4 linked regions of the Homo sapiens genome follow. The protein of the gene in region 1 purifies or fractionates together with the protein of each later gene. This does not show direct contact. Each region holds a gene or a part of one and is shown on either strand. Other genes may lie near its edges. The genes, in order: SH3BGRL, MYO5B, SVIL and MYO5C.

The links.
Region 2: the proteins of SH3BGRL (region 1) and MYO5B purify together in Homo sapiens (affinity purification with mass spectrometry; 2 studies listed by BioGRID and IntAct, with this or other methods). This does not show direct contact.
Region 3: the proteins of SH3BGRL (region 1) and SVIL purify together in Homo sapiens (affinity purification with mass spectrometry; 2 studies listed by BioGRID and IntAct, with this or other methods). This does not show direct contact.
Region 4: the proteins of SH3BGRL (region 1) and MYO5C purify together in Homo sapiens (affinity purification with mass spectrometry; 2 studies listed by BioGRID and IntAct, with this or other methods). This does not show direct contact.

Annotation. Positions count from the first base shown.
Region 1 is NC_000023.11:81,197,168-81,205,503, reverse strand, and holds the start of SH3BGRL (adapter SH3BGRL), read right to left. Parts: upstream 3,403-8,336; 5' UTR 3,304-3,402; coding exon 3,259-3,303; intron 3,068-3,258; exon of another isoform or gene 2,928-3,067; intron 2,913-2,927; exon of another isoform or gene 2,784-2,912; intron 1-2,783. UniProt on the Homo sapiens protein: Appears to function as an adapter protein that bridges proteins together or proteins with mRNAs. May function as a ubiquitin ligase-substrate adapter.
Region 2 is NC_000018.10:49,821,933-49,828,642, forward strand, and holds the end of MYO5B (unconventional myosin-Vb), read right to left. Parts: intron 4,692-6,710; coding exon 4,539-4,691; 3' UTR 857-4,538; downstream 1-856. UniProt on the Homo sapiens protein: May be involved in vesicular trafficking via its association with the CART complex. The CART complex is necessary for efficient transferrin receptor recycling but not for EGFR degradation.
Region 3 is NC_000010.11:29,526,473-29,534,323, forward strand, and holds part of SVIL (supervillin), read right to left. Parts: intron 6,987-7,851; coding exon 6,057-6,986; intron 5,701-6,056; coding exon 5,530-5,700; intron 4,817-5,529; coding exon 4,782-4,816; intron 4,197-4,781; coding exon 4,135-4,196; intron 3,373-4,134; coding exon 3,233-3,372; intron 585-3,232; coding exon 489-584; intron 1-488.
Region 4 is NC_000015.10:52,222,479-52,230,329, forward strand, and holds part of MYO5C (unconventional myosin-Vc), read right to left. Parts: intron 6,836-7,851; coding exon 6,655-6,835; intron 4,139-6,654; exon of another isoform or gene 4,020-4,138; intron 3,081-4,019; exon of another isoform or gene 3,055-3,080; coding exon 2,961-3,054; exon of another isoform or gene 2,731-2,960; intron 2,661-2,730; coding exon 2,597-2,660; intron 2,504-2,596; coding exon 2,423-2,503; intron 1,247-2,422; coding exon 1,066-1,246; intron 1-1,065. UniProt on the Homo sapiens protein: May be involved in transferrin trafficking. Likely to power actin-based membrane trafficking in many physiologically crucial tissues.

The sequences.
Region 1 (8,336 bases):
ACACACACACACACACATATATATACACACACTTATATATACACACATATATATACACACACAAAATAAAATATTATTCAGCCATAAAAATGATATTCTGTTATTTGTGACAACATGGATGAGCCTGGAGGACATTATTTTAAGTGAACTAAGACATAACACAGAAAGACAAAAGACATACCACACGTTCTCACCCATGTGGGAGCTAAAAAAGTCGATCCCATGAAGATATTGGGTAGAATGGATGGTGGTTACCAGAGGCTGAGAAGGGTAGGGGGAAAGAAGGATTAAGAGAGGTTGGTTAATGAGTACACAAATACAGTTAGATAGAAGGAATAAGATCCACTGTTCAATTGCACAATAGGGTGGCTATAGTTACCAATATAATTTACTGTATAGCTAGAAAAAACAGCTAGAATGTTTGGAATGTTCCCACCACAAATAAATGATAAATGTTTGCGGTAACGGATATCCTAATTACCCTAATTTGATCATCACACATTGTGTGCATGTATCAAAAGATCATATGTCCCCCATAAATATGCACAATTATGATATATCAATAAAAATAAAAAATGAAATCCATTGCAAAGACCAACATACTTGTTTTCATTTCTAAACTTTCAAGAAGCAAGTGCTACTCTTCACTATTAGGCCACTTTTTTTGTTTTGTTTTGTTTTTGAGAGAAAGTCTCGCTCTGTTGCCCAGGCTGGATTGCAGTGGTGCGATCTCTGCTCACCGCAAGCTCCGCCTCTTGGGTTCACGCCATTCTCCTGCCTCAGCCTCCCGAGTGGCTGGGACTGCAGGCGCCCGCCACCATAATAAGTTAACATTGTCTTGCCAATTATCACAGATCCAGATCCCCCACTCTGCCCAGTATAACCAGTATAACATCTGTTGTTTTTTTTTTTAATGACAACCAGTAGGAAGATTAAGAAACAGTCAGCTACCACCAATCCAAAGCAAAGAAGCTTTTAACTGTTCTTCAGACAACTAAACTTAGTCACTTATTGAAGTATCTCACTATGTGCAATTGTAGGACTCCATCAGGATATTTGCTCAAAACTTTCTAACTTATGTATTAAAACAAACAGGGCATCAATCTTAAAGGAAAACTTTAGTACAGCAAACTGAAAAGTGCCTTTCTGAAGTAAATAATCACCACTCCATTCATGTTACAAAGAAGTACTCACTTTACACTGTTTTGGTATTATTTAAAAGTGTTGTAATAGTATAATAAAGCAAGGATTTATTTTGGCATTATGAAGTAGAATTTTGATAACAGGTTCATTGAACTATAATTACTACAGTAGATAAATTTCTAATAAATTTCTAACTACTCATGACAAAAAATTGAAATAAAATACAAATACCATAAACATCTGCCATTTGCATGGTCTTCAACAATAAAGTCCAACAAAGATGGGAAGAATAGACACTGAAGACTACAGAGGAGGGAGGGAGGAAGGCAAAGGTTGTAAAATTACCTATTGGGTACTACGCCCACTACCAGGGTGAGAGGTTCAATGGTACCCCAAACCTTGCACAGTATACCCATGCATCAAATCTGCACATGTACCCTCTGAATCTAAAATAAAAGTTGAAATCTAAATAAAAAAAAAAAGGAGTCCAATAAAGGAAATAATAGAAGACAGCAGCCATTTCTAAGGCTCTTGGAAACTTAAGACTTAACAAAGAGAGGTGCAGTTATTCTTACTTGAATAGAAATTCTGAAAGCAGTTTCTTGTTGAATCTACTTTTAAAGAAGGGGTAGAGGAAGGAGAAAGCAAAGAATAAATAACAGTATTGAAACTGTATGACTCCCAAAGCAAAACTAACTGCCTGATCTGTTCAGTCTCATTAGGGGTTTAACTAAAGGCATTAAGTTGGACTTTACAATTATTGGATTGAGTTGAGACTCTGAGCAACTCAAATTTTACTTTGAAATATTAGACAACATGTATGGAAAATAATAAAGCAAGAGGCTCATAAAATTAGGTCCAAAGGAAATATAAAAGGTGTTCTTTTTTTTAACCTAAACTTATTCAAAAAATGTAAGATTAAATTTTCTGATATTCCAAAATTGCATAAACATATCCACACATGGTGGCCAGAGAAGACAAAGTTCAAATATCAAGGTTCTTGTGATTTAACATAACCTCCACTTCCATTCCACATCCTCTCAGGTGTAAATAAACAAGCCAAAAAATAAAAACACACAACAACCTGGATTAGCTGCTGCTCTAAAGCTCAAGAAGAGGGAAGGGGTTCCTATACCCTACAATCTGAACCCACACATCTGTTCTTGCCACTGTCTGCCTTTCTCTTGAGTTGTAAAAAGCAGAAGCACTTTCATTTATCATGGATATACACTCATCTTGCACCCCAGTTTATCATATTCTCCCGACAGCTGCTGAAAATTTGTTATTCTAAATTAAGAGTAAGTGAATCCATGAAAGAGAAAGTCCTATCATTTGAAGCAGCAGCAACTCAGGCTGCCACTACACAAGAAGCCACTGAGCTCCCTATCCAGTTCTCAATATACTTGAAGCAGTGAGAGAAATTTAAAAGTAAAATATTTTGAAAGAATAGAAACAGTCAAAATAAGGGACAATATGGGGGGAAAACTGAATCTCGTGTCATATTAAGTTAAAAAAAAATTTACGTCATTGTTACCAACTTCCCCTCCCAATTTGTCTAGTTCTAACAGGCCTTCAAGCTCAAGTTAACCACTTTCTTCTACACACTCTCAAAATAACTCTATTACCAGGGTCTCACTCACCCAGAATAATTACAATGCCTCGGTAGGCCTCCACTCAATCCCCACCAGTTACAGCATGTGTACCCCCATCCTTTACAGAAGTGCACTCCTCCTTGTCTCAGTACTTAGGGCGTATTCATCAAATGTCTCACTCTTGAAACTCACCAGTGTGCGATTTTACTTGACTTCACGTAACCCTAAAGACCGTATAGCACCATCTCCCATCTCCCAAAACTTGGTAGCTTTCGTTTTCCTTCAAAGCAGAAATGTGCCCCCCAACGTCACGAAGCAAACAAAGCTGAACTCTATGTGGAAAAAAAAAAAAATGAAATCGATGCAACAAAGGGAAAAAAGGGAAGAAGAAGGGTGGGATCGGGGATGCATGAGTCTTCCAAAGGAGAAGCTGCCAGAGGAACTTCTGCATTTTAATGGTTCTGGGGCAGCAGAGGACTGGTGTGTAGGAAAACAACAAAGGTGGACTCCCCACTCTCCTTACCGCTGTAGAGCCAGAGGAAGATGCAATATATACACGGATCACCATCCTGGGAACAGCGGCTGCGGTTGTTTGGGTCCTGAAAAGGGCTGTGGAGCAGCTGCAGCAATGGCTGGAATCCAGCTAGGGGCTGAAACAGCGGTTGGCAGAGAAGGGTGGGGGAAGGTGGAAGGAGAACTCGCCAGAGCCCCGCCTCCGCCTTTAGCAGCTTCCACCGAGCTCTCTAAGCGCTGCAGTTCCAGCCCAAAACCCCGGAAGGAACAGGCTGTTTGCATCAATTCTATTTTTTTTTAATAGGGAATCTCGAATAGCACCGCGAGATCTGTTGAAACATTGATTTTTGACGATTCCTTCCCTGAGAAGAGGGCGAGGAGAAGAAGAAAGAAAAAGGAGAACTGAATTGAATTAGATTAGCATGAAGGACCTTTTCACGCGGAGACTAAAAGTACTGCGCATAACTTCCTGCTCAGAAATATATGCAAATAAGAAGACAGATCCTGAAAGAGCAAGCTGTATGTTGAAAACCCATGTTCTCAAAGCCTTGCGCATTTTAAGATTCCTATTACGTAGTGATTTTTCTGATCTTAGCTCGTTGTAGGAATTAGGCACTAAAGTACTGAGCAATGCTGCAGAGTTTTGAAGGAAAGTTTCAGGTTTCCTTAAGCCCAGAAATGGCAGGATTGGTTTTCTTTTTGAATTTTGTGTTTTGTTAAATTAGGGAACCCTGCTTCCGTGGGAATTTGCAGGAGGCCTGATTGGCAAGTTTAAGAATGAAGGAATAAATTACAAAGAAAAGATTGAAAATATTGTGTAAAAAGATGGATGATTTTTGTTTTGTTTTGCTTTTTAACTGACTGAAGTAAGGGATTTGGGAGAACATATTGCAGATGTTGAAATGGTGAAGAGAGAGATCAGATGGTTATTTGTAGCTCTAAGGAAATGAGCAAACAGTTAATAATGTCCAGAGACAGACCATATACTTCAAAGTGTAGTTTTAGGTTCCCAGATTATGTTAAATGAACAGAAAAAAAGGAATTTGCAAGATGAATGAGAGTGGAGAGGAGTCAGTCGCTTGTCCTACTTCTTTTCCTTTGCTGTTTTTCCACTGTCTCCAGTCTAGTGGTTTACTGTCTTTGCCTAGGCTCAGTGCTTACAATAGCTTTGTTAACTGTTCCCTACCCACAGGTTTTCCCTTCTCCAATCTGTCTTAAATACTAATTCCAAATTAATCTCTTTACATGTTGTCCTTAAAACAACCTCAAGAGGTGGGTACTATTACATTAATTTTACAGATGAAGAAACTGAAACTCAGAAAAATAGTTTTCCTAAAATCATATGGTTAGTACATTCCAGAGTTAGGAACTCCAGAGGCCACCTTCTTATTTTTTTTTAATTATACTTTAAATTCTAGGGTACATGTGCACAACGTGCAGGTTTGTTACATAGGTATACATGTGCCATGTTGGTTTGCTGCACCCATCAACTCGTTGTTTACATTAGGTATTTCACCTAATGCTATCACTCCTCCAGCCCCCCACCCCCCGACTGGCCCCGGGGTGTGATGTTCCCTGTCCTGTGTCCATGTGTTCTCATTGTTCAACTCCCACATATGAGTGAGAACATGTGGTGTTTGGTTTTCTGTCCTTGTGATAGTTTGCTTAGAATGATGGTTTCCAGCTTCATCCATGTCCCTGCAAAGGACATGAACTCATCCTTTTCTATGGCTGCATAGTATTCCATGGTGTACATGTGCCACATTTTCTTAATCCAGTCTATCACTGGGACATTTGAGTTGGTTCCAAGTCTTTGCTATTATGAATAGTGCTGCAATAAACATACATGTGCATGTGTCTTTATTATAGAAAGATTTATAATCCTTTGGGTATATGCTCAGTAATGAGATTGCTGGGTCAAATGACATTTCTAGTCTAGATCCTTGGGGGATCGCCACACTGTCTTCCACAATGGTTGAACTAATTTACACTCCCACCAACAGTATAAAAGCATTCCTATTTCTCCAAACCCTCTCCAGCATCTGTTGTATGATTGCCATTCTAACTAGCATGAGATGGTATTTCATTGTGGTTTTGATTTGCATTTCTCTCATGACCAGTGATGATGAGCATTTTTGCATATGTCTGTTGGCTGCATAAATGTCTTCTTTTGAGAAATGTCTGTTCATATCCTTTGCCCACATTTTGATGGGGTTGTTTTTTTCTTGTAAATTTGTTTAAGTTCTTCGTAGATTCTGGATATTAGCCCTTTGTCAGATGAGTAGATTGCAAAAATTTTCTCCCATTCTGTAGGTTGCCTGTTCACTCTGATGATAGTTTCTTTTGCTGTGCAGAAGCTCTTTAGTTTAACTAGATCCCATTTGTCTATTTTGGCTTTTGTTGCCATTGCTTTCAGTGTTTTAGTCATGAATCTTTGCCCATGCCTATGTCCTGAATGGCATTGCCTAGGTCTTCTTCTAGGGTTTTTATGGTGTTAGGTCTTACATTTAAATCTTTAATCCATCTTGAGTCAATTTTTGTATACGGTGTAAGGAAAGGATCCAGTTTCAGCTTTCTACATATGGCTAGCCAGTTTTCCCAGCACCGTTTATTAAATAGGGAATCCTTTCCCCATTGCTTGTTTTTGTCAGGTTTGTCAAAGGTCAGATGGTTGTGATGTGTGGTGTTATTTCTGAGACCTCTGTTCTGTTCCATTGGTCTATATATCTGTTTTGGTACCACTACCATGCTGTTTTGGTTACTGTAGCCTTGTAGTATAGTTTGAAGTCAGGTAGCATGATGCCTCCAGCTTTGTTCTTTTTGCTTAGGATTGTCTTGGCCATGTGGGCTCTTTTTTGGTTCCATATGAACTTTAAAGTAGTTTTTTCCAATTCTGTGAAGAAAGTCATTGGTAGCTTGATGGGGATAGCATTGAATCTATAAGTTACTTTGGACAGTATGGCCATTTTCACGATATTGATTCTTCCTATCCATGAGCACGGAATGTTCTTCCATTTGTTTGTGTCCTCTTTTATTTCATTGAGCAGTGGTTTGTAGTTCTCCTTGAAGAGGTCCTTCACATCCCTTGTAAGTTGGATTCCTGGGTATTTTATTCTATTTGTAGCAATTGTGAATGGGAGTTCACTCATGATTTGGCTCTCTGTTTGTCTGTTATTGGTGTATAGGAATGCTTGTGATCTTTGCACATTGATTTTGTACCCTGAGACTTTGCTGAAGTTGCTTATCAGCTTAAGGAGATTTTGGGCTGAAACAATGGGATTTTCTAAGTATACAATCATGTCATGTGCAAACAGGGACAATTTGACTTCCTCTTTTCCTAATTGAATACCCATTCTTTCTTTCTCTTGCCTGATTGCCCTAGCCAGAACTTCCAACACTATGTTAAATAGGATTGGTGAGAGAGGGCATCCTTGTCTTGTGCCAGTTTTCAAAGGGAATGCTTCCAGTTTTTGTCCATTCAGTATTATATTGGCTGTGGGTTTGTCATAAATAGCTCTCATTATTTTGAGATATGTTCCATCAATACCTAGTTTATTGAGAGTTTTTAGCATGAAGGGCTGTTAAATTTTTTCGAAGGCCTTTTCTGCATCTATTGAGATAATCGTGTGGTTTTTGTCATTAGTTCTGTTTATGTGATGGATTACATTAATTGATTTGCATATATTGAACTAGCCTTGCATCCCAGGGATGAAGCCAACTTGATCGTGGTGGATAAGCTTTTTGATGTACTGCTAGATTCTGTTTGCCAGTATTTTACTGAGGATTTTCACATCGATGTTCATCAGAGATATTGGCCTAAAATTCTCCTTTTTTGTTGTTGTGTCTCTGCCAGGCTTTGGTATCAGGATGCTGCTAGCCTCCAGAGGCCACCTTCTTAACTATTACTGTTAACTCACTGCCTGGAAGAGTGAAAGTACTAAAAAAAAAGTTAGCAATTTTTTCATCCTAAAACACCACTTTCTTATATTACTGAAGACAACGTAGGCAGAAATACTTAAATTAGCTCTCCATTGACTATCGAACTAAACCTAAATTATGTTGCTAAACAGTTTTCACCATAATCTAGGCCCACACTATTCATACAATCTTACTTAGTGCTCCCCCAAACTAACTTCCCTATGTACGTAATCATTGTTGACTACCTGCTGCAATCATCATGCTTATGATCACTCTCATGCCTTTGCTCTTCCTGTTTCTTTCTTCACCTTCTCCCCACATTCTCATAACCTTTTCTGCCCTCTCCACTTATCCAACTCTTGCCTTTGCTAGACACAACTCAAAATCTTTATACAAATAATCAGGCAAAAGTAAGTCAGCATGATCTAGTCACCCTCCTCATTGCCAACATCAGGGCTACTGCTATTGCACTTTTCGGCCTATGCAACAGGAGACTCTTTCTTCTGTTTTTTTTTTTTCATTTTGCAAAATGAACATAATTTGTCTTATACTACCGTAGTATGACATCCCTTTCCCTTCTCAAGTGGACACTGCTATGCTCTCACCCCTCACTCAGAACTAAGAGTCTCCAGGTGAGTTATTTTCATTTGCCACACCAAAAGTAGCTGAATTTTCTTGATCAGCAAATACCCCCTCAGCAGAAGCACTCTTTATCATCACTGAGCTCTTTGGAGTTGTAATTCACCCTCTTTTCTCGCCCTGATAATTCCTCACTTTCCTCTTGAGGTCTTTGATATTTTTCATGTATTATAAAATACCTTCCAATATTTTAAATTCCCTTTATCAAGAGAGTTCCAGATCACCTATCCCCACCTTTTCCAGAAGCAGAAATTTTACCTACTTTTAAACTTTTGAGAAAGTTAAAATATTATTTACCTACAAAACACTACAAAATTATGGTGTAGAAATGTTTAATGAACTGTCTGAAAAACATTATCATGTCAACTTCATTGAATATTAAGTTTACTATTTGTAAAAATTTCATTTCATTTGAAAACAATTTGGAGTTTACATTTTTATCTCACATAAGCAGAATTCCTGTTTCTGCAGAGAAATCACTGTCGAGCATATTTTAATGAATTGCTTGTGGCTGAAAATTTTTTAAATTTT
Region 2 (6,710 bases), on another chromosome or scaffold:
ACATGGAGAAACCTTGTCTCTACTAAAAATACAAAATTAGCTGGGCATGGTGGCACATACCTATAATCCCAGCTACTAGGGAGGCTGAGGCAGGAGAATTGCTTGAACCTGGGAGGCGGAGGTTGCGGTGAGCTGAGATTGTGCCATTGCACTCCAGCCTGGGCAACAAAAGCGAAACTCTGTTTCAAAAAAAAAAAAAAAATTTCCATGTCTGTCATCCTCACACATCTTAATTACTGAAATTTTGTAAGTCTCAATGCCTGCTAAGGAAAGCTTCCCACTTTCTCAAGGAGGGTCTTCCTTATTCATGGGCCTTTGCTCTTCCATATAAATCTTATAATGAGCTTGTCAGTTTTCACATAGAAACAGTTGAAATTTTGATTTTTAATCTATAGATCAACTTGGGGACAACTGACAAACTTTTAGTGGTATGGAGTCTTCGAATTCTTGTACCTAATTATTTCTCCATTTTAATGTTGTCATTGTTTTTCACTTATATTTTACAAATTCCTCCATACAGATCTTATGACTATTTCCCCACTGATTTTTCATGCCATCTCTACCGTATGCTATGTTATACATAGGATTGGGCCTATCCTTGCACTCCCTATTCTGTTTCGTTGATCTACTTGTCTTTGCCTACACCAAAACTGCCTTTAATTCCATAGCTTTAAAGTAATTGCTCAATAAGCCTTGTTATCTGAGAGTTTCTCCCTGCCCCCAACTTTTGGACTGTAAGATGCTGACCTCTGGTTTAAATGATCTTGACACGTATTAGAATATAGGCCCCATAATGAAGCTTCTCAAGAGAGCATTACAAAGAAACTTTGTCAACCTGTAGCTGCAGAGTTTTAAATTTCATTTAGATTTGGCACACCTCTTTATTCAAAAGTATTTATTTCCACAAATTTTTATCCACAGCTAAATATTACAGTGACTATTACAAGCATTTTTCTATAAACAAAGGTGTAGTTTACAGATTTGTGCAAAGTGGGAAAATATTTTCATCAGTAGTCTTTCTTCCATGGTGTTGGATTCACCCCTGAATATGATCTGAACTCTTTCAGAGAGGCAGTCCTTCATCTAAATGTCAGTTGGTGGCAAAATGTTATATTCAAATCTGGATTATTCTGATACAGTGTCACTTTAGAAAGTAGCTTAGTTTCATTTCTGATTGATCCCCTTTGTTAGAATTAGAAATTTTTTGAAAAACAATCTTTTGTATCTAATGACCTTTATAATAAAAAAAACCCTGTCCTGTGTTTCTCATTGGCATTAACCTCTGTCTACACCCTCTAATTCTCTAATTATGGCACCAGTGGGTATAAAAAGTGAATTATGGTTATTTGGCTCATGCAGCAAATTAATTGGAGAAACTGACCACAAATATTCTGTGAAGAACTACAAGGTCTTGCCCCATGCTGTCCCATTTTAGTGACCATTTAGTTATGCAGGCATTATACAAATGCCTCAATTTAGGACACCCTTGCTGTCTTAGTAGGTCAAGTGTATGAAAATTTACTTTATGCAGAAGAAATGAATTCTAATTTATTGGTTACTGGAATCTTAATGTATGAAAGCTCTAAGTAAATATTTGATGAATTGATGGTAGCAGTGTTGATTTTTAACTGTTCCAAGCTCCTAGTTTTGTTTTGTTTTTACAAAAGCCTTAAAATTTAGTACTAGGGAAATCAAAGGAAGCAACTCCCACTGACATGCTTCATGGAAAGGGGAAAAACATCTACCTTTGGGTCTAATCTGCCTCCCAGGTGAGCCTACAGGTACTGGAACTCTAACTGCAACTATGAGGGCACAGGGAAAATGCATGTATGTAATATGCTTGTCAGCTTCAGCAACAACTCATGTGTACATTCACATTTACTATAAGTAAACAGGTCCCGTATAATACTTAAAACACAAGTTTTGATCTATAAATATTTGATTCTTAATATTTAAAATGCTTCTAATGTTTTAAAAGACAAAACTCCCCCATGATATCACCTTGAACATTAAAATTATTCCCACAGCAACACTTATTTCAGAGAAACAACTGATGTCAGTTATCTTAGTAACCGCTAAAGGCACCTGGTGAAAAAAATGTCAACTAAATTTTAAATATTAAAAAATTAAAGAGACATCTAATGCAGAGTTCAAACCTGAATTGTTAAAGAGTCATTACTGATTTCATGACACTGATAAATGTTTGAATTGAAATGATTTTTTAAAATGCAGAGAAAATGCTAACAAAAGATTATATAGTTCCCCTAAAGATGCTTCTTCTAGCCTCCAAGTATTAAATAAGACAGATCTAAATATTAACTACATATAAAGTATATATTTGTTAGTCATCTGTAAGTTTTAAGTACAATTCCAGGATATACCTTTATCTTTTGGAAGAGAAGAACTAAATCTGCCATTTCTTAGGCTAAATGGACTATTCATAAGGTCCTTCCCTCCCCATTTATTCTAATTGCCAAGCTTTTATTCAGTAAGCTCTTGGCACCTAGTGATTAACCAGTGACAGCAGAGAGTAGTGACCAAGAGAGATGGAGAGAATGATGGTATAAGACAGTGTATAAGGATAGTAAGCCACTGTGTTTGTGGAACCACTGCATGTCAAAACTCCTTAACACTCTAACAAGGCATTTTTGGTCTTTTAAGGATGGTCCTTACATAAGAGACTCACTTTCAAACTAAAGTGCATTAAAAAACAAATTATCCTTCACAAACAACTTTAAAGAGGTAGCCACAAACCCAGTTGTTTTAGATTGGCCTTCTAAATGAAGTCAGCACATGGATCCATGGGTAAGTGTCATGGACGTCAGTGATTATGTAACTGTAACTGAAAGAAAAAGGCACAGCTCTGCCGATGCCCAAGAGAAGCCGGCATGTTTAATGTGGATGTAGAGGGGATAATGCCCATGACAACTGATTGGAACACAATGTCAGCAGCCTTAACCCAGGCTAAGACTGGCCTAAGCCCCAGGAGATGCAGAGAACAACTGAGGAAGCTGTGCTCTAAGGGCACAGTGCAGAAGGTAGCGTGGAGTGTGCTGTGTTTCCAAGAGCCTTTTAAGTTGGGTGGTTGAGTAAAAGAGGGTGAAGGCAGGCTGTTCTACTTCCAATTCATGGATAAATCTTATTTTCTCAATGTAATACAGAGGCTGTTCTTCCATGATTTGCAAATACCATTTTTTTCTTATGGGAACAGCATACTGCTATCAAGAAATACAGAAAAGACAGTAAAAAAAAGTGTGGAAAGAATATGGGTTTCCAATTGAATGCTTGCTTTTGAAGAAACCAAAAACAAGTTAAAAAAAATTCTAAGAGCAGCAAACATCTAAGCCTGTTATATTACTGAATTACTTTTTTAAAATCCTTATTTTGTGGGAGAGATATTTACAATTTTTTGTGTGCTAAATTTGAAAAACGTTGAAAATAACCTGAAAAGGGAAAGTTGACCTAAGCCATTTTATTCTCTTAAAAAAAAAAAACCCAAACTTTTGTATAATATCCCTGAACTGATTATTTTTGAAGGTTTTTCAGATGATCTGATGTGCGAACTTTAGTTTGTTTTACTATTTGGTTTCTGGAACAGTAGAGCATTATGTGATGCTCTTACTGGAAGCTTAATGGTATTAAGAGATTAAAAGCTTTCATATTGACTTGTTTGGTTTTTACATCTATAAATAAAACAAGTTTGTTATCCGTTTCTAATATTTAGCTTATATACATTTTTGTGAAAGTTTTGTGGGACTTGGAAAGTGTATGGACTAGCATCAGAAACAAAATATTTTTCCATCTTTCTCACTTGGAGTTTGGGATAGCAGCATTTTAATAATCTCTTCCATTAAATCAAGATAACACAAAAGCGTTTGAGCACACTGAGGACTGGCACTTCTAATTTTGCTTCAGAAACCAGTACTCAAAATGTCTGGTCTGGAGGTCAGTTACACCACTGTCTGTGTATAATCAGCCATTAAAAAATATTTTGGGAATATTTCTCAGAAGTCTCATCCCCATATTTTTGTTCTTAAAACATCTCACCACAAACTCAACCACACCTATGGTTTGCAAACTTTGGGAAATGTCAGTATATGCCATTATCATGGTTATTAGTACCATTATTTGTTAAAGCCCTTTGAAGGCAATTTATGTGACTTATATATATTTGGTATTTTAATTTGGACATTCTCTAGTTCTATGCAAAGATCAAAACTAGGCAGCTTCGTTTTATAGAATTGACACCTTTTATATGTCTATGGGGACTGCTTGGTGTCTATAAATTATGTATATGTGTTGGACTGAAATCAAACTTAAAATCTTCCATATTTCAAGTGTTTTTATTCTGAGCAGTAGGTACAAAAAATAATGACATAGTTGTGTCTAATTCTGTATAGTTCAGCACCCTCCACAGGCTGTCAATCTCTGATTTGATCTACTTTTACCAGATTTAACAGATCCTTGAATTTACTTTACTGTATATACTTCCTTCTTGCTCACATTGGGAATCAAACTAATGCTGGAAACATGCATCTTCAGACTTCATTGAGGAATTCCAGATTGAGACACGCTGGGATGTGGATTGAGTCCATGGTTAGAGAAGATGGATTAAATGGAAACAAAACAGGAAACATGTGCTTGGCATCTAATAGCAGTTGCTGAGGGTCATTCCGCTCTTGTAGTTGTGCCTATGGGGAAGAATAAGACCATGTAAAGTTTGAGTACCCCTAAAAATAGCCAGTTTAAGTGAATTCACAAAAGTGAGTTGGCATATATCATGGAAAGATTTCTACGACAATTAGGTAGAACTTCAGGACTAGGAGAATGTGATCTCCTCACCCTTGAGGTATTTAGTGGGGAGAGAAGCCCTGACTTAGGCTTCTTGGAGATCAGAGGGCTGTAAGCACTCTCCCAATTCTAGCATTCTTTAAAAAATTGTCTAAGGGAGAATATAAAATACATCTCAGGTGCAAACCATATGGAGAGGCACTATAGTGAAGTGGCCAAGGGCATGGGTTTTTTTTTTTAGGTAGACAGCTGAGCTCTAATCCTGGCACCACCCTGGGCAAATTCCTGAATTTTTTATGCCTCAGTTTCTTTACCTGTAGAATGGGAGAAGAGTACATCACATAAAATGGCAGAGTAGGAAGCCCTAGGGATTGGTCCCTCCACTGAAGCTACCTTGAAGTAGAAACAGTGATTGTCAACTATCTCATAACTCTGGAACTTGATTGGACATTTATAACAATCGGGAGACTGATTGGTAAAGGGAGAGGCTGCTGATCTTTGCTAAGGGAACTGTGTGTGTGACCCAGCTACTATCCCCCTCTCTTCAGCTCCCCTGAAGCTATGGGGATAGCAGCTCACATTCCTGGAGTAGCTAGCTGGCCAGGGTAGGCAGTGGGACCTTGTCCTCCAAAAATTTGGGGTTGTGCCCTTTGATCTGGTGGGTCCCAGCAGATGCCTGTCTTGGTTTAGACATTCCTTGGGATGCAATGGCTTCCACTAGTGGCATCAACTGGAAAATTTAAAGGCACAGAGCCCCTCCCTGCTTCCTATTTGAAGCCAGAAATTTTAGGAAAAGTACAAAAACTGAAATGAAAAATTCACTAGAGAAGTTTAACCGCAGACTTGAGCAGGCAGAAGAAAATCAGTGAATTTGAAGATAAAGCAATTGAAATGATCCAGTCTGAGAAGAAAATAAAAATAATGAGGTAAAAATGAACAGAGCCTAACAGACCTATTGGACACCATCAAGTATACCAACATACACATTACAGGAGTACCAGAAGGAAAAGAGCAAGAAGGGGGCAACAAAATATTTGAAGAAATAATGCCAGAAACTTCCCAAATCTGATGAAAGACATGTATGTAATCATCCAAAAAGTTCAATGAACTCCAAGCAGGATAAAGGCAAAGAGATTCACAGTGAAACACATTATACTAAATTGTCAAAACCCTAAGACAAAGAGGGAGTCTTGAAGGCAGTGAGAAAGAAGTGACTTGTCACATACAGTCATCCCTCAGTATCCATGGGGGATTGGTTCCAGGAATTCCCACAGATACCCAGATCCATGGATATGCAAGTACTGCTGTCGGCCCTGTAGAACCTATAGATAGAAAAAGTTGTCCCTCCATAACTACAGGTTCTGCATCCTGTGAATACTGAATTTTGAATCTGTGGTTGGCTGAATCTGCAGATATGGAACCTGTGGATATGGAGGGCTGACTGTATAAGGTATCCTCAAATAAGATTAACAGCTGTTTTTCATCAGAAACCATGGAGGCTAGGAGGCAGTGGGATGACACAGCTCAAATCCTGAAAGGAAAAAATCTTGTCTGCTAAGAATTCTAAATCTGGCAAAACTACCCTTCAAGAATGAAGGAGAAATTAAGTCATTTCCAGAGACAAAGAAGGACATTATATTTTAATAAAAGGTTCAACTCATCAAGAAGATATAATAAACATCTGCATCTAGCAACAGAACCCCAAAATATTTGAAGGGAGAATTGACAGACTTTAAGGGAGGATAGTTCTACAGTAATGGTTGGACATTTCAATACCCCATTTTTAATCATGGATAGAACCAGATAGAAGATCAATAAGAAAATAGAGGCCATGAACAACACTATAAACCAATTAGTCCTAACAAACACATATGGAACACCCCACTTAGCAGCATACACATTCTTCTCAATGCATATGG
Region 3 (7,851 bases), on another chromosome or scaffold:
TTTTGTATTTTTAGTAGAGACAGGGTTTCACCATGTTGGCCAGGACGGTCTCAATCTCCTGACCTCGTGATCCACCTGCCTTGGCCTCTCAAAGTGCTGGGATTACAGGCATGAGCCACCGCGCCTGGCCAATGTCCCATTTTTCTATTAATCTTTATTAAGTGCTATAACAGTATTTAGATGAAGAACAAAATTTTTGAGGGATGACCATTATTATGAAAAACAAACAAAGCAACTGGATACGTGAGTTAGTGTGATCCTAGTTCTAACACATAACATATGCAGAGAGACAAAATGTTTTCCCACGCACGCCAGCATGTGGTTATCAGCACCTTGTGCTATGACAAAACAAAATGCCACGCATTCTGGAACAACTCACGGCATTGACTTGTTTGTCAAACAAACGACAGACATTCAAGACTTTAGGATGCATCTGCTGTTCGGCACCTTTGCACCGGGTGCCGCATGCATCTGTATCTGTCCAGTACCTGGCAGGCTGCACAGCGCTCCTAGCTACAGTGGGGCTAGGAAGTCTCGCCATTACAGGGTGGGTGCCCCCAGAACACGAAGCGGGGATAGGTTCACTTTAAAAGCAATTGCCAAAGAGGAAACATTCATAAGGAGAGAGAAGAAAAGAAGCATTAAGGACAGCATAGTTTTAAATTCAGAAACGTTAAATCAAAAATTTTAACAGAATATTTTGCTAATTATTTTTGGGGAGAAAAAATCACGAAAGAACTTCAAAAGCAAATACAAACTCAGGAAATAAGAGATAGTGGCTACCCAAAGCAAATGGGGTAAGAATAGGTGTTCAGAGCTGGGAGGATTTACTCTGTCTTGAGAATACATGTCTTGGTGTAAAAAAAATAATAATTCAAAAAAGCAAATATTAGCTATCAAAAAATCAGTAGATTATGTCTGTGTTTTAGAATATTGTTTCCAATCTAATTTTTTTCTTTCTTTTTCTTTTTTGGAGATGGAGTCTGTCTCTGTCACCAGGCTGGAGTGCAGTGGCATGATCTTGGCTCACTGCAAACTCCGCCTCCCGGGGTCAAGTGATTCTCCTGCCTCAGCCTCCTGAGTAGCTGGGATTACAGGCGCGCACCACCACGCCCAGTTAATTTTTGTATTTTTATTAGAGATGAGGTTTCACCATGTTGGCCAGGATGGTCTTGATCTCTTGACCTCGTGATCCACCTGCCTCAGCCTCCCAAAGTGCTGGGATTACAGGTGTAAGCCACTGGGCCCAGCCTTTTTTTTTTTTTTTTTTTTTGACAGAGTCTCACTCTGTCGCCCAGGCTGGAATGCAGTGGCGCGATCTCGGCTCACTGCAGCCTCCACCTCCTGGGTTTAAGCATTTCTCCTGCCTCAGCCTCCCGAGTAGCTGGGATTACAGGCGTGCGCCACCATGCCTGGCCAATATTTTTGTATTTTTTAGTAGGGACGGGGTTTCACCATGTTGGCCAGGCTGGTCTTGAACTCCTGACTTCAGGTGATCCACCCACCTCTGCCTCCCTAAGTGCTGGGATTACAGGTGTGAGCCACTGCACCCGGCCTCAATCTACTTTTTAAAAGTATCAGTGTTCTTATACAATCTATAGGCACATCAAGGTAGATTTATTGAGCCTTAAAATGGGATTAATTTTTCTTATATTTACTGTTTTGCTCCCATGGGTATCTGCCTGTTATTTTACACCAGCCATTCAAATATTTCTTTTTTTAAAAAACAAACTGATTTGCAAAGAGTTCCTAATGAGTGCAAGGATATACTTAGCTACAAATGCACCAAGAAACTGAGGAACAACTCGGGGAGGAACTGTAGGCAGCTGATCTAACAGCAGGTCTACAGAACGGGGCACTGACATAGAGGCCTTTTGGGATGTCAATAACCTAATGGGATGAACTATTTTTTTTTCCAGGAAGGGTGTCTGTGTGTCCAAGGTAAGCACAAAACCAATTAACAACATCAACAACAACAAAACTAGGCTGGGTACAGTGGCTCACGCCTGTAGCTCCAGCACTTTGGGAGGCTGAGGTGGGAGGATCGCTTGAGCCCAGGAGTTTAAGATCAGACTGGGCAACATGGCAAAACCCCATCACCACAAAAAATACAAAAATTAGCCAGGTGTGGTGGTTGGGCCTACAGTCCCAACTACTTGGGAGGCTGAGGTTGGAGGGTCAATTGAGCCCAGGAGGTTGAGGCTGTAATGAGCCAAGATGGCGCACTGCATTCCAGCCTGAGTAACAGAGTGAGACACTGCCTCAAAAAAACAAACAATGCCCCCCGCAAAAATAAGAAAATTTTTCACTTGATTGAAGCAATGATCTCTGAATGAACTACTCTGGGAAATTAATTCTGAATATATTGAAACATATTATTCAAAACAAACTTCCTATTGTTTGGAAAGTTATCAAACTGCAATTTAATTTTTAGAAATTTCTGGCAATTAATCCCAGCACTTTGGGAGGCTGAGGCATGGATCACCTGAGGTCAGGAGTTTGAGACCAGCCTGGCCAACATGGTGAAACCCCGTCTCTACTAAAAATACAAAAATTAGCTGAGTGTGGTGGCACATGCCTGTAATCCCAACTACTCGGGAGGTGGAGGCAGGAGAATCGCTTGAACCCAGGAGGCGGAGGTTGCAGTGAGCCGAGATCATGCCACTGCACTCCGTTCTGGGTGACAGAGCAAGACTCTCTCTCAAAAAAAAAAAAAAAAAAAAAAAAAAAAGAAAAAAAGAAAAGAGATTTCTGGCAATTAAGAACAAAACAAACCTTATCTTTTAGAGGGGCGTACTGGGATATTTATGGATGAAATGGTAAGACCTCTAGTGTTTGCTTGAAAATAGCACAGGAGGAAAGGGGAAATGAATGGCACACGGGCTGAGCATCACCGGCCAGGAGCGGGTGACCGTGGAAGCTGGGGTTTCATCACAGCAATCCACCAAGTTTCATGTTTCTATTTTCCGTTGTCAAAGAGATTTTTAAAATATCAATATGCAGAGACAGAAACAAAATAGAACAAAAACTCCTTTCAAGTTTTTCTAGAAGATACACATCCCATTACAAAGTTTAGAGAGACCACAGTAAACAAAATCCCTTAGTACTAACTTCTCTGTGGCTTCTAGCTAAATCACCTCCCCAATGCCTCATTTTCATTGAACACTCTTTAAATGTATTTTTTTAAAAAAAGACACTATAGACAAGGCTGAGAAGTCCTGTGGGCACTTACGTGGCTGCGATGACCACCTCTTCAGTGGTGATGGGCTGGGTGAGGGACCTGTCCTGCAGACGGCGTAGCCTCTGCTCCACAGCTGTGTTTCTTGAGCGTCGCTTTGGAACATTTTGTTCATCAAAAGATTTTTCCATCTCCTAAGATTAGAAGTATTGTGGAACCCTTATAAATTCAAGGAAAGAGCTGGGCACGGTGGCTCACGCCTGTAATCCCAGCACTTTGGGAGGCTAAGGAGGGAAGATTGCTGGAGGCCAAGAGTTCAAGACCAGCCTGGGCAACAAAGTGAGACCCCCTCATCTCTACAAAAAATGCATAAATTAGCCAGGCATGCTGGCACAGGCCTGTAGTCCCAGCTACTTGGGAGGCTGAGGTGGGAACATCACTTGAGCCTGGGAAGTTGAGGCTGCAGTGAGCTATGATCACATTGCTGCACTCAACCCTGAGTGAGAGAGTGAGACCCTATCTCTAAAAAAAAATTAAAAATAACAAAGAAATTCAAGGAAAGGAAATGGGGGTAGTAAAAATTCTTCACTTTGTTCTCCTACAGGACCTACAGGAGGGGTCACTAATGAGCACCTCGTATTGTTGTCAGAAGTGTACACTCATGCTGTGTCCATGAGGTGGCCACAACCAGCCAAAGATTAGGAAGAGAACAACAGGTGGGCCAGAGGCAGGAGGGCCTTAGCATGCCCAGAGGTGCATGAAGTAGGCTGGGTCCACAAGATTCCCCCTCCCTAAGGCTTACAATTTTTATTTTTTTTGAGATGGGGGTCTCACTGTGTTGCCCAGGCTGGTCTCAAACTCCTGGCCTCAAGTGATTCTCCTGCCTTGGCCTCTCAAATAGCTGGGATTACTGCACCCAGTAGGGATCTCTATTCAAGCACGTCAGCACAGCTTACCCTGAAAAGCAACCTCTTGGCGGCGACGCTCAGCTTGGCTCGTTCATCCACCTTTTCTTCATCTGCAAAAAGCCACAAATTAAAAACTGGACATCATTAGAGAAGGTTAAGTTCGGTCTCCAAAAAGTCTTTCAGGGCTGACCTGGAAATCTTTGAATACAACAATAGGTGCACTAAAATAATAATTGGTGGTAGTTTCCCCTTGCAGGGAGCCCATTCTTTCTGCTCAGTGAAAAGGTACTAATTTCCCTTGCAATTCAACCCAGCCAAACCAAAGCAAACTCTGTCCAGGGATTTCTACTCTAACGTTTGTCTGATCGAGATTTCATGAATATATTTTATGGGGGGAATTTCTTTTAGTTTTAAATAGTAGCAGCAGCAACAACAAGAAGAACCTGCTCCTTTGGTTTGAATTAGTTGTTTTTACATTGGTCACTGTATGATTCTCTAACTGCTCTCAAAAAGAAGGGAAAGCTTGTCTGAAAATTTCAACTAGATTTTATCATATCCACAGAACGAAAACCTGCAGCAAAGGGAGACACTGTTATGCTCCATCATCTTACTCTCTCAAAAAGCCAAAAACCTTATTATTAAATCCAGTCTAGATGAGATAATAAAGAAGAAAAAAAAGGGAAACAGGTACTTGCCATCGACAGTTGGCGTTTCTGAATGTGAAGTGCACCTAGGAAAGACATTAGCAAATAACAATAATACATTAGCAGGTGGGAGCAGAAGATCGAAATAAAACATCATACTGAAAGTAAAAATAAAAATGCAATTAAATTCTTTTAAGAAATAACCTCCTGGTAGCAATTCTAGTTGTGAAAACACACATACAGTTGTGAAGCAACACTGTGGAGCGTGTGTGCACACAATCCCAGCCAAGTACACACCCCGTGGAGAGAGACCAGGCACAAGAACAACTTGTTAAACACCACTGATGACAATTTTCCAGACAAATCTTACCATTTCTATGCAATAGTATATGACACTTCAGTATAAAACTCAAATACAACAAGTAGATGGACATTTATAAAATGAATATAAAATTCCTCAGTTATTTTCACTGTAAAATCTGGTGAATATGCAATCTGGAGTCTAATTTAACAAGGGGTAAAAAACATTAAAACCATTAAATAAAGAAAAATAATGTTTCTTACTTCTTATCATCTGAATGCAATGTAAAATTGTGTATGTATCATAATACCGCTGTAAAGGCTAATATTCTTTAAAAAGACTTTTAAATAAGCCAAATAAATAACGCTTATAGGTTAGATGGAACAATTATGGAATCGCCAACATCCTATATAAATAGCGTCAAGACCGTCAGTGTGGTAAAACTCCTGTGTCATTGCCACGTTCCTGGATGAGGAAACTGCGCATACGCATGCCTACCTATCCGATTCCTTTCGTTCTGCTGAAGTTATAGGTTGGGTTCTAAATCTCTCGGAAGTTTTTCTACTTTCACCAGGAGAAAAATAGCGTCTTGGTTTCCGGGACCCTCTCTCCCGTTCCACACCGGTGGGCAAGCCAGGTCCTTCAGCCGACCTCTCCACCCGTGATTTGCTTTGAGAATCAAAGGGCAGAGAGTATAAGGAAGGCAAACGAAGACAGAGAAAGAGAAGATGGCAAAGGATTATGCATCTCCGTGAGTCAAGGGACAGACACCACCAAACCCCTCTTCATGCCTCTACCATGCACGTAAGGAAGGAGACATTCCAGACACCCAATCCACTAGTTCCCCATTAGTAGGCAGAAGCAGAGTGGTAGTTTTTGAGCCATTTTCCGCATAGTCGCCCTGCACGCACTTGTGAGCTAAGCTAATATGATTCAATGCAGAACACAACACAGGTCGAGGAGTGAATCATTCTGCCAGGGACGTGCAAGTGACACAGCTGGAGGGCGTGTGAAGCATCACCTACAGTTCAGGTCTCCTGCAGGCGTTGGCAGATGCCAGGAACGCACTTCGGAGCTGGGCGACAGAGACTTTTGTGTCCAGCATGCTGATCTCCCCATAAGGCCCTTCGGTCTTGGAGCTGGGCAGCTCCAGCTCTCTCCTGGAAGCTGGGTCCTTATACTTCAAGGCCTGGAGCTGAGGGGGGCCTGTGAAATCTGACAGAGAGCGGGTACGGACCTTGCGCTTTTTCGAGGCTTCCCTGTTGTGACCAGTTGGTTTGGCGTCTTGGGACACAGGCTCACTTTGAATGTAGAGAACCATCTCGCTCCTGCCTGTCCTCTCAGTGGGCTGGTGCGGAGCTTGAGGGGGTTGTGCCACGTTTTCCAGTTCCTTCTGATGCTCTAAGGTGACTGTGCTCACAGCAGGCTTACCAAAGTCCTCATTTCTAGAGGGATCTTCTGGGCTTCTCACTAGCCCATCACCCTCCAAAGCCAGTAGGGTTTTCTTGCTTTGCTCGAGAGCTTCAGTGAAGCACACATCTTCTTCTTTTTCTTCTCCTTCTCCTTCCCCTTCTTCTTCTTCTGCTTTTGACTCGCAGACATGGAGAACTGGGCTATCCCTTCCGTCACCTTCTAGAACCGTCAAGCTGGGAGGTTTGGGGACATTCTGGGTGGCTGATGCTACCCAGCTACACTCAGATGCATTTTCTGGGGTTTCTGGCGTCACTAGCTTGGCGGTGTGACCGGTATCTGCGGGTTGGACATAGCCACGGATTGGCTGTCGTGTAGAGCCTGCTGCCTTGCTGGGGACCCTATCAAAGGCTGAGTGCTCAGACTGAAATGACACGTAATGGACTGGCGCTGGCTGGTGTCTCCTCTGAGTTACGGACTCTGAGGCGAGTTCAGGGCTGTTTCGAGCACTTTCCTCTTTCACCAATTTTTCTCTAACTTTAACTCTTTAAGAAAGAAAAAGGATTTAAGTTGCAAAGTGCAGTAACGGCCTCACAGGAGGAAAGCATGCGTAGATCACAGATTACCAGTGAATGGAAACTGACCTGAGAGAGAATAACTTGTGAAAAAGCATTTTGGTGTCTAATGTCAACTACTTGTCAGATGATCCTGAGTTGAGTTTCCAATTTGCATATGTATGCCCAGGAGGTGCAAAACTAACTCTACCCCTGTAAAAGCTGGCAGGGGTCAGATGCTATCCTGGGGGAGAATGGGTCCCTTCTGACTAAATAAATACCCAGAAGCCACAGAAAAATGCGTTAATATCCACCACCAGCATGCATTAGGGCATAATGAGCCTGGTCCCTTGAATCAGTAAGCTTTCCTCATGTACACGCCCAGAACACGGACTGTGGGGGAAGGTTCCTGGCATACAGACACCTATTGACCAAACGCTGTAATTTCATTGTCGTCTGAAAATGTAAGAGCACTCACGATTATTTATGCTTTTTATTTAGTTCAAGATACAACAATCACCTCTCTTTTAAAGCACTCAACTAGACATTCACAAGCTTTTTCATGCAATGCAGAGTATATTCATTCATTCAGAAGGCATGTGGCCAGTCTGGGCATCATTATGAATAATTCTAGCACCAAAAGAATGTTAGAGAAAAGATAGTTGCTGACAGAACTAATGAAGTGAACATTTCCCACCACCATCCCCCTGTCCTGCTGTTATGCTCTTAGTTAAAAATGAATCCCAAAAGAGAGGCCGGGCCCTGGGGCTCATGCCTGTGATCACAACCTTTTGGGAGGCCTGGGCAGGAGGATCATTTGAGGCCAGGAGTTTGAGACCAGTTTGGGCAACATAGT
Region 4 (7,851 bases), on another chromosome or scaffold:
GGAAGCCAAGAGAACAAGGCAGAGAGGGCAAGATTAGCATCGCCAGAGGCTGCTGAGACACTGAGTAAGATGAGGGTGCAAAGGAACCCTTAGTGCTCAGCTCTGTGCAGGCAGAGTCAGCCAGTGGTGGGGACACACGACAGAATGGGGTGGTGGGCAGTGAATGGGAGGTGTGCGGAGGAAGTATGCCTAGAGGGTCTTTGTAAGTCTGACTAAGACCCCAAAGAAATGGGTGATGGCCACAGCAGTGTGGGGTTAAGACAGAGATGGCTTTTTGAATGAGGAGATTCCTAAAGCATTTCTCCAGGCCAGTAGGCATGAGTTGGAAGAAAGAATGAGACAAATGCAGTGGCTAGGAATGCACGTCATGGAAGAGGAAGCCCTTGAAAAGGTGAGATTTGAAGGCCGGGCACGGTGGCTTATGCCACTTTGGGAGGCTGAGGCAGGCGGATCACGAGGTCAGGAGTTCGAGACTAGCCTTGCCCACATAGTGAAACCCTGTCTCTACTAAAAATGCAAAATTAGCTGACCGTGATGGTGGGCGCCTGTAATCCCAGCTACTCGGGAGGCTGAGGCAGGAGAATTGCTTGAACCTGGGAGGCGGAGGTTGCAGTGAGCTGAGATCATGCCATTGCACTCCAGCCTGGGCAACAGAGTGAGACTTCATCTCAAAAAAAAAAAAAAAAAAGGTGAGATTTCAGGCATGAGCAGGACTGGCCTTCTGACACACTCCTGTCTCAAGAGCTACCCTTCAATTTTGTGGTCACTTTCCAAGGGGTTAGGGCTTGATTTAAATATACAGGCTTTAAAACATACACACTTACGCGCACACACAGACAATCACAGCGCCTGCAGCCATCCTGTGGTGAACACACACACTCTTGTATCAGAGTGCTCTCTGGTCTGCAGTCATTTTATAGTTTAATCACCAGACCAAGTTATTTCACTTCTGGAAAAAGTAATTTATATCCACTCTTTTACTGCCAAGAAACTGAATTTGACGCCACTGACAAAGAACAACTCTAGTATGATGGCCACGACTGGGGCCCCTGGCTGAGACCATACCATGTTCTCTGATGTTAGCCTGGTAACTTCATGACGGATGCTTTCATTGATGTCATTTTCTTCTCTGAATAACTTCTGCAGGTGGTTGATTTCTTGACTGAGATGCACCACTTTGAAGTTCAAAGCTTCAATCTCCTTTTCATAGCAATCCTTCTGAGACTGGAAATGGCTCTCCAAAACACTATTAAAGGAGGGGTCAAGAAATAAACCACATGGCCTTTGTTCTGTTTTATGGACTGCTGGGAGGCAGTTATGAAGACCCACAACAAGAGCCGTGCACGAAGTACATCAAGTTTACTTATGCACTCACGGTTACAGGCTACAGAATCAGGAATGCCTAATTATAAAATCTTCTAGCTAGTTAGGAAGCATTATGTGGGGGTTAATATGTAGTTAACAATGAAGAAAATTTTAGAAGTTATTATATTTTTACACTCTTAATAGTTTAAAAAATACTGGCCAGACGCAGTGGCTCACACCTGTAATCCCAGGATTTTGGGAGGCCGAGGTGGGCGGATCACTTGAGGTCAGGAGTTTGAGACCAGCCTAGACAACATGGTGAAATCCCGTCTCTACTAAAAATACAAAAATTAGCCAGGTGTGGTAGCGCATGCCTGTAGTTCCAGCTACTTGGGAGGCTGAGGCACGCAAATCGCTTGAAACCTGGAGGTGGAGGTTGCGGTGAGCCAAGATCTTGCCACTGCACTCCAGCCTGGGTAACAGAGCGAGACTCCATCTCAGAAACAAAACAAAACAAAACATGTTCTGTATGATACTACAGTTGTGGATACGAGTCATTATACATTTGTCAAAACCTACAGAATGTACACCAAGAGTGAACTCTAATGTAAACTATAGACTTGAGGTGACAGTGGCGTGTCAGTGTTGGTTCACCAGTCATAGTAAACACATCACTGTGGTTTGGGAAGTTGACAGTGGGGGAGGTTGTGTGTGTGTGGTGGCAGGGATATATGGGAACTCTCTGTATTTCTGCTCAACTTTGATGTGAACCTAAAACTGCTGTGAAAAATAAAGTTTATTAATTTAAATAAATGCAGCACATGCCTTAAATTTAAATGTATCTACATATTTCTGGCAACATTAACTAACTTATTTGATAATCAGTTTTCACTGTATGGGTTATGGGGTTTTTTACTAGGCATTTTATCCCACAAAGAGATTGCTCTTCATGAATAAGCTACTTACTTACTTCTCAGAGAAATATTTCTAGTGGTTATTCAGTCATTCTACTATAAGGAATTTGTGTATCAATCTATGTAAGGTAAACTTTGGACTTTCCAATAGTCTATTTATTATCTCTGAAAAATAAAGAAGATCCCTGAGGAGAATTTCTAACCGTGTTGCTTTCTTTAGTCCTTCATAAGCAAACCAAAGTTCTCCATCCTCATTTAAATGTTCCAGATCTTCCACAGAGAGCCTGCAAAATAAGGAAGATAAGAAAATCTATCATCTCTGTCACGTTTTACATGTTTACATGTCTTAAAATGTTTGATAATGCAAAAATGATTACCTGCTTCTTACATCTTCAATGTCATAGCTTTCGAGAAGTTGTTTGGTGATCTCTGACATCTTTTCTGAAAGGGAAAGGCAGAGTTGTATATATTACATTTGTGGATGATTTATCTTTTCCCATTCCCTTTCCAGGGCCCAGTTTTCTAGCTTCACAGTCTCCAGCTAAATAACTCACCAGCTATCCAATCAACCAACTAACCAATCTTCCAGGTATTCAACCAACTAGCTATTCAACCTATCAACTAAGCAATCTACCATATGTCCAACCAAATTCATACCAAAGGACACGTTTCCTTAGCAGCGACACAGCTATGATAAATTCAGTCTGCACCCATGGACTAAGAGACTCATATTTTTATTACCTCTCATTTCCCGTTTTTGTGACTGCACATGTTTCTCCACATCTATCTTCTGTGCCTGAAGTAGTTCTATCTCTTTTTCGAACTCAGAGATTGTCTGAATCACAGCAATGACGGAATCAGGTAAAGAAAAAACAACGATTATGCTTTATATAAGACAAAGGGAACACAATTACAGCGTTGCGTGTCTATGCAAGACATCCTCACTGCAGTTTCTTTCTTAGCTAAAATCTTGTTAAACCATCACTGCCTACACAGCTTGGCCTTGAAGCATGCTTAACTACTCAAAATGCCAGATCTAATGGGTTGTATCAGTAGAATTAACTTCCCTGGGCCAGGCATGGTGGCTCACACCTGTAATCCCAGCACTTTGGGAGGCTGAGGCAGGTGGATCACCTGAGTTCAGGAGTTTGAGACCAGCCTGACCAACATGGTAAAATCCCATCTCTACTAAAAATACAAAAATTAGCCAGGCATGGTGGCAGACGCCTGTAATCCTAGCTACTTGGGAGGCTGAGGCAGGAGAATCGCTTGAACCCGGGAGGCAGAGGTTTTAGTGAGCTGAGACTGCACCATTGCACTCCAGCCTGGGGAACAAGAGCAAAACTCCACCTCGAAAAAAAAAAAAATTAACTTCCCTGTTACATAAAGAAAAAAAAATACCTACTATAAGCTTGGGGTGGGGTGGGACAGGGGGAAGACTGAGAAAGGTAAAATCACGGGCTAAAATTCTCTTTTAATGGATAATAAAATATTGAGTGCAAGGACATGGGCAAAGTTGCCACCTTCATAACTGTGGGTTTTGGCTTCAGCTCAGCTTAGATGTGGAGCAGTGGCAGAGACTGGTGAGTCCAGGAGGTCTGGGAGTTAGCTGGCTGTTGGGAAGGAGGTGGCCTGGGCAGCTCTGGTTGTGGGGAAGAGGCAGTATTCTGCCTTTATTCTCCCTTGTGAGCTCAGCTTGAATAAGAATCACAGGTCTGTGCTTTTGCTTTGTATCTGAGGGAGATATAAGGACTTTCAGGGACAGCAGAGGTGAATAAACTCTCCTTGATATTTTTTCAGTTACCCTGAGTATTTAAGGGCTCCAGCCCCTGTTTCTACAGAGAGTAAGCAGGAGAATCAAACTGATATGTGCTGAGCACTTTACCTAGAAGACCTAATCCTCCTAACAGGCCTATGAGGTAAGTAGAGTGATCTTTTCTCAATTAGCAAACAGCAGCTACATTTAACTGAAGGCTGACTGGCACGTTCAGGGTCACATGCCAGGTTTATGGGGGACTCAGGACTATCCAAATCCTGAAGGCCATGCTTTTCTTTGTAATGTTTCAGTAAATGTTCCAAGTCAGATTTGCATTTACTTAGGCTTTTAAGACTGACTATAACACATATAACTTGATGATCATGAGTTATTTTCTTTGAAAACCAGAGTAGGCTGGGCACGGTGGCTCACGCCTGTAATCTCAGCACTTTGGGAGGCTAGTGCGGGTGGATCACCTGAGGTCAGGACTTCAGGACCAGCCTGGCCAACATGGTGAAACCCTGTCTCTACTAAAAATACAAAAAAAAATTAGCCAGGTGTGGTGGCAGATGCCTGTAATCCCAGCTACCTGGGAGGCTGAGGCATGAGAATCGCTTGAACCTGGGAGGCAGGTTGCAGTGAGCCAAGATGGTGCCATTGCACTCCAGCCTGGGTGACAAGAGCAAAACTCTGTCTCAAAAAAAACCCAAAAAACAAAACACAAAAACCCAGAGTAATTTTTTTTTTTTTTTTTTTGTTGAGACGGAGTCTCACTCTGTCACCCAGGCTGGAGTTCAGTGGTGCAATCTCGGCTCACTGCAACCTCCACCTCCCAGGTTCAAGCGACCCTCCTGCCTCAGCCTCCCGAGTAGCTGGGACTACAGGTGTGTGCTACCTCGCCCGGCTAATTTTTTTTTTTTTTTCTAGTAGAGATGGGGTTTCACCGTGTTAACTAGGATGGTCTTGATCTCCTGACCTCGTGATCCGCCCACCTCAGTCTCCCAAAGTGCTGGGATTACAGGCCTGAGCCACCGTGCCCAGCCCCAAGTAATCTTAATGGATCACATTGGAGAGTGAACCAGTCTTAGCTACCAAAGAGGAAGTGAGTGACACCTACTGGTACCTCTCTGCAAGCGCAGTCTCACAAGTTCCTACATTTAAGATACAGACCTCAGACCTCAGCCAGATGACAGGACTCCCACAGACTGACTGACATCAGGCTCATGTGGCTGCTAAGAGTGAAGCAGTCACAGGAATGAAAGTGACCCTTCCTGATCATGTGGTCTGACCTCCTACTTTTAAACAATAGGGGACGGGGCCCAGAAAAGACAGACACTTCAGTTGTGGAATTCAGTGGCCACCCGGATGCAATTCCAAAAGCTCTTCTAAACCACGCATGGCTAGTTCATGACAATTACAGAGACTATTTCCATAATCCTACAAATACTCTACTAATATGTATTTCACATATTTAGTAGAAGCTTAAAAGCTTTCCAACTTAATGATGAAATGTCTTACATTTAAGAACGTAGGTACACTCAGGTTTAACTTTTCTGGTAGGGAAACAATTCACTTAAGCCTTGATTGTCCAAGCATGGATCATTACTTCATCCATTCATTCATTTTTCTCTAGAGCATTTTATTAAATTGCCCAGGAATATTTATATATTTTTAATGATAGATACAGGTAACAATTTTTTTTTTTTTTGAGACGGAGTCTCGGTCTGTCACCCAGGCTGGAGTGCAGTGGCGCGATCTCGGCTCACTGCAACCTCCGCCTCCCAGGTTCAAGCAATTCTCCTGCCTCAGCCTCCTGAGTAGCTGGGATTACAGGCACCTGCCACCACGCCCAGCCAATTTTTGTATTTTTAGTAGAGACAGGGTTTCACCATGTTGGTCAGGCTGGTCTAGAACCCCTGACCTCATGATCCACCTGCCTTGGCCTCCCAAAGTGCTGGGATTACAGGCCTGAGCCACCGTGCCCGGCAGGTAACAATATTTTTATATATCATTATGCAGTTTTAAAAATTCTATGTGATTTTTCCTTCTCAGCTTTATAAAAATTTACTTAAAAATTTCTACCATTGAAAATTTATAGCTTTATTGATGTTATAATTTATGAATATATTGTGGAATAATTCAAGCTGATTAACATGTTATCACCTCAAATACTTGTCATTTTTTGTGGTGAGAACATTTAAGATTTACTCATAGCAATTTTGAATGTACAATATGCTCTTATTAACTACATTCACCACACTGTGCATTGGATAATTGTTTTAGTAAATTTTCTAATAACAGTTTAAATGAAAGATTTTGATAATAAGGTAACTTAACTTTAATGCAGGTGTTTATAGATTTATAGTGATGGATTATATAATAAGGATTCACCTCAATTTACAGTCTAATTTGGGAGTATTCTCTACATCGACATATTTAAATAACTTTACATAAATGTAATTTCAAAAAAGTTAGAAAGTTGACTTTTAAAATATGGAATACAATGATTGCTAAATCAAAGGCAGCCTGGAGGTGCACAGTTGGAAGGACTGAAGGAATCAGGCTCCAGTTGCCTGTGGCCTTTACACAGATGCTTTTAGCTGTCTAATCTGTGGGAACTTGGAATTGCAATCAAATGACGTAACCAGAGGGCGGGGCTGAACGTGAGAGCCGCTCTACCTTGACCTGCTTGCTCAGGCGGGCCACTTCCGCCTTCAAGCCATCAGAAGTGACGTGCTCCCCCTCCACCAGGTGTTGGAGTTGCATCTTCTCATCCTTGAGAGCTTTAATTTCTTCTTTCAAAGACTGAATCTGCTTCTCATAGTCTTGTGTTTTCAGTTCAAAACTTTTTTCAAGAAGCCTACGCAGCAAAAGAAGAAAATAATTTAGAGCTGAGCATGGTGGCTGAAACCTGTAATCCCAGCACTTTGGGAGGCCAAGGCAGGCGGATCCCTTGAGCCCAGGAGTTCAAGACTAGCCTGGGCAACAAGAGAGACCCCGTCCCCACTAAAAATACAAAAATTAGTCAGGTGTGGTGGAGCACGCCTGTAGTCCCAGCTACCCAGGAGGCTGAGGTGGATGAATCGCTTGAGCCCAGGAGGTCCAGGCTGCAGTGAGCTGAGATCGTGCCACTGCACTTCAATCTGGGTGACAGAGTGAGACCCTCCCCACAACACCCCCTAAAAAAGAAGAAAATAATTTAGAATTGTCTCTACAGTCTTTACTTTGAATTAGAATACATCATTTTGAAAACAACAAGAGGAGACAAGTTAATTAGAACCTACTGTGACAGTTCCAGCAGGTAATGGCCTTATTTTTAGCAAACTGTTTCCTCTTCCCTTAGGTTAAAGACAACTTCTTACACCTCCTGATTTGAAAGGTGTGGCTTTACAGTGATCACGCACAGGGCACACTGGCTAGGGAGGCTGAACTTAAAAGACACACTGGGTTTTGGGGCACTGTATTCCCAACCCCCCGGGTTCCATGCAGTCCCCTGGAAGGGCCAGTTTCCTTCAGCGAATACCTTGGCGTGCTCTGCTAAGTCCTGGCTCCTTCCTCGTTCCAAGGATCCTGCTGGAGGTTTGTTTGATCCTAAACAATAGAGCTATCTGCTATGTCCAGGGGTCTAGCCCTTCAAAAATTCTAGAATAAATGGCAGCAAATCCACGTGCCCAAAAGTGCATGTAAATCCAACTGCTCTAGAAGGTTGCTCAATTAAAAATTTGATGATTAACTAAGAAAATAATTGAAAAGAGATACATAACCTAGACAAGCCCAACACAGCCCACAGGGGCCCTTGAAGCAGTGCCAGGAGCTCTATGAGTTTACTAAATGATTCTACCTGCTGAGCTGTCATTTCAGTTCCTTTTAAAACTT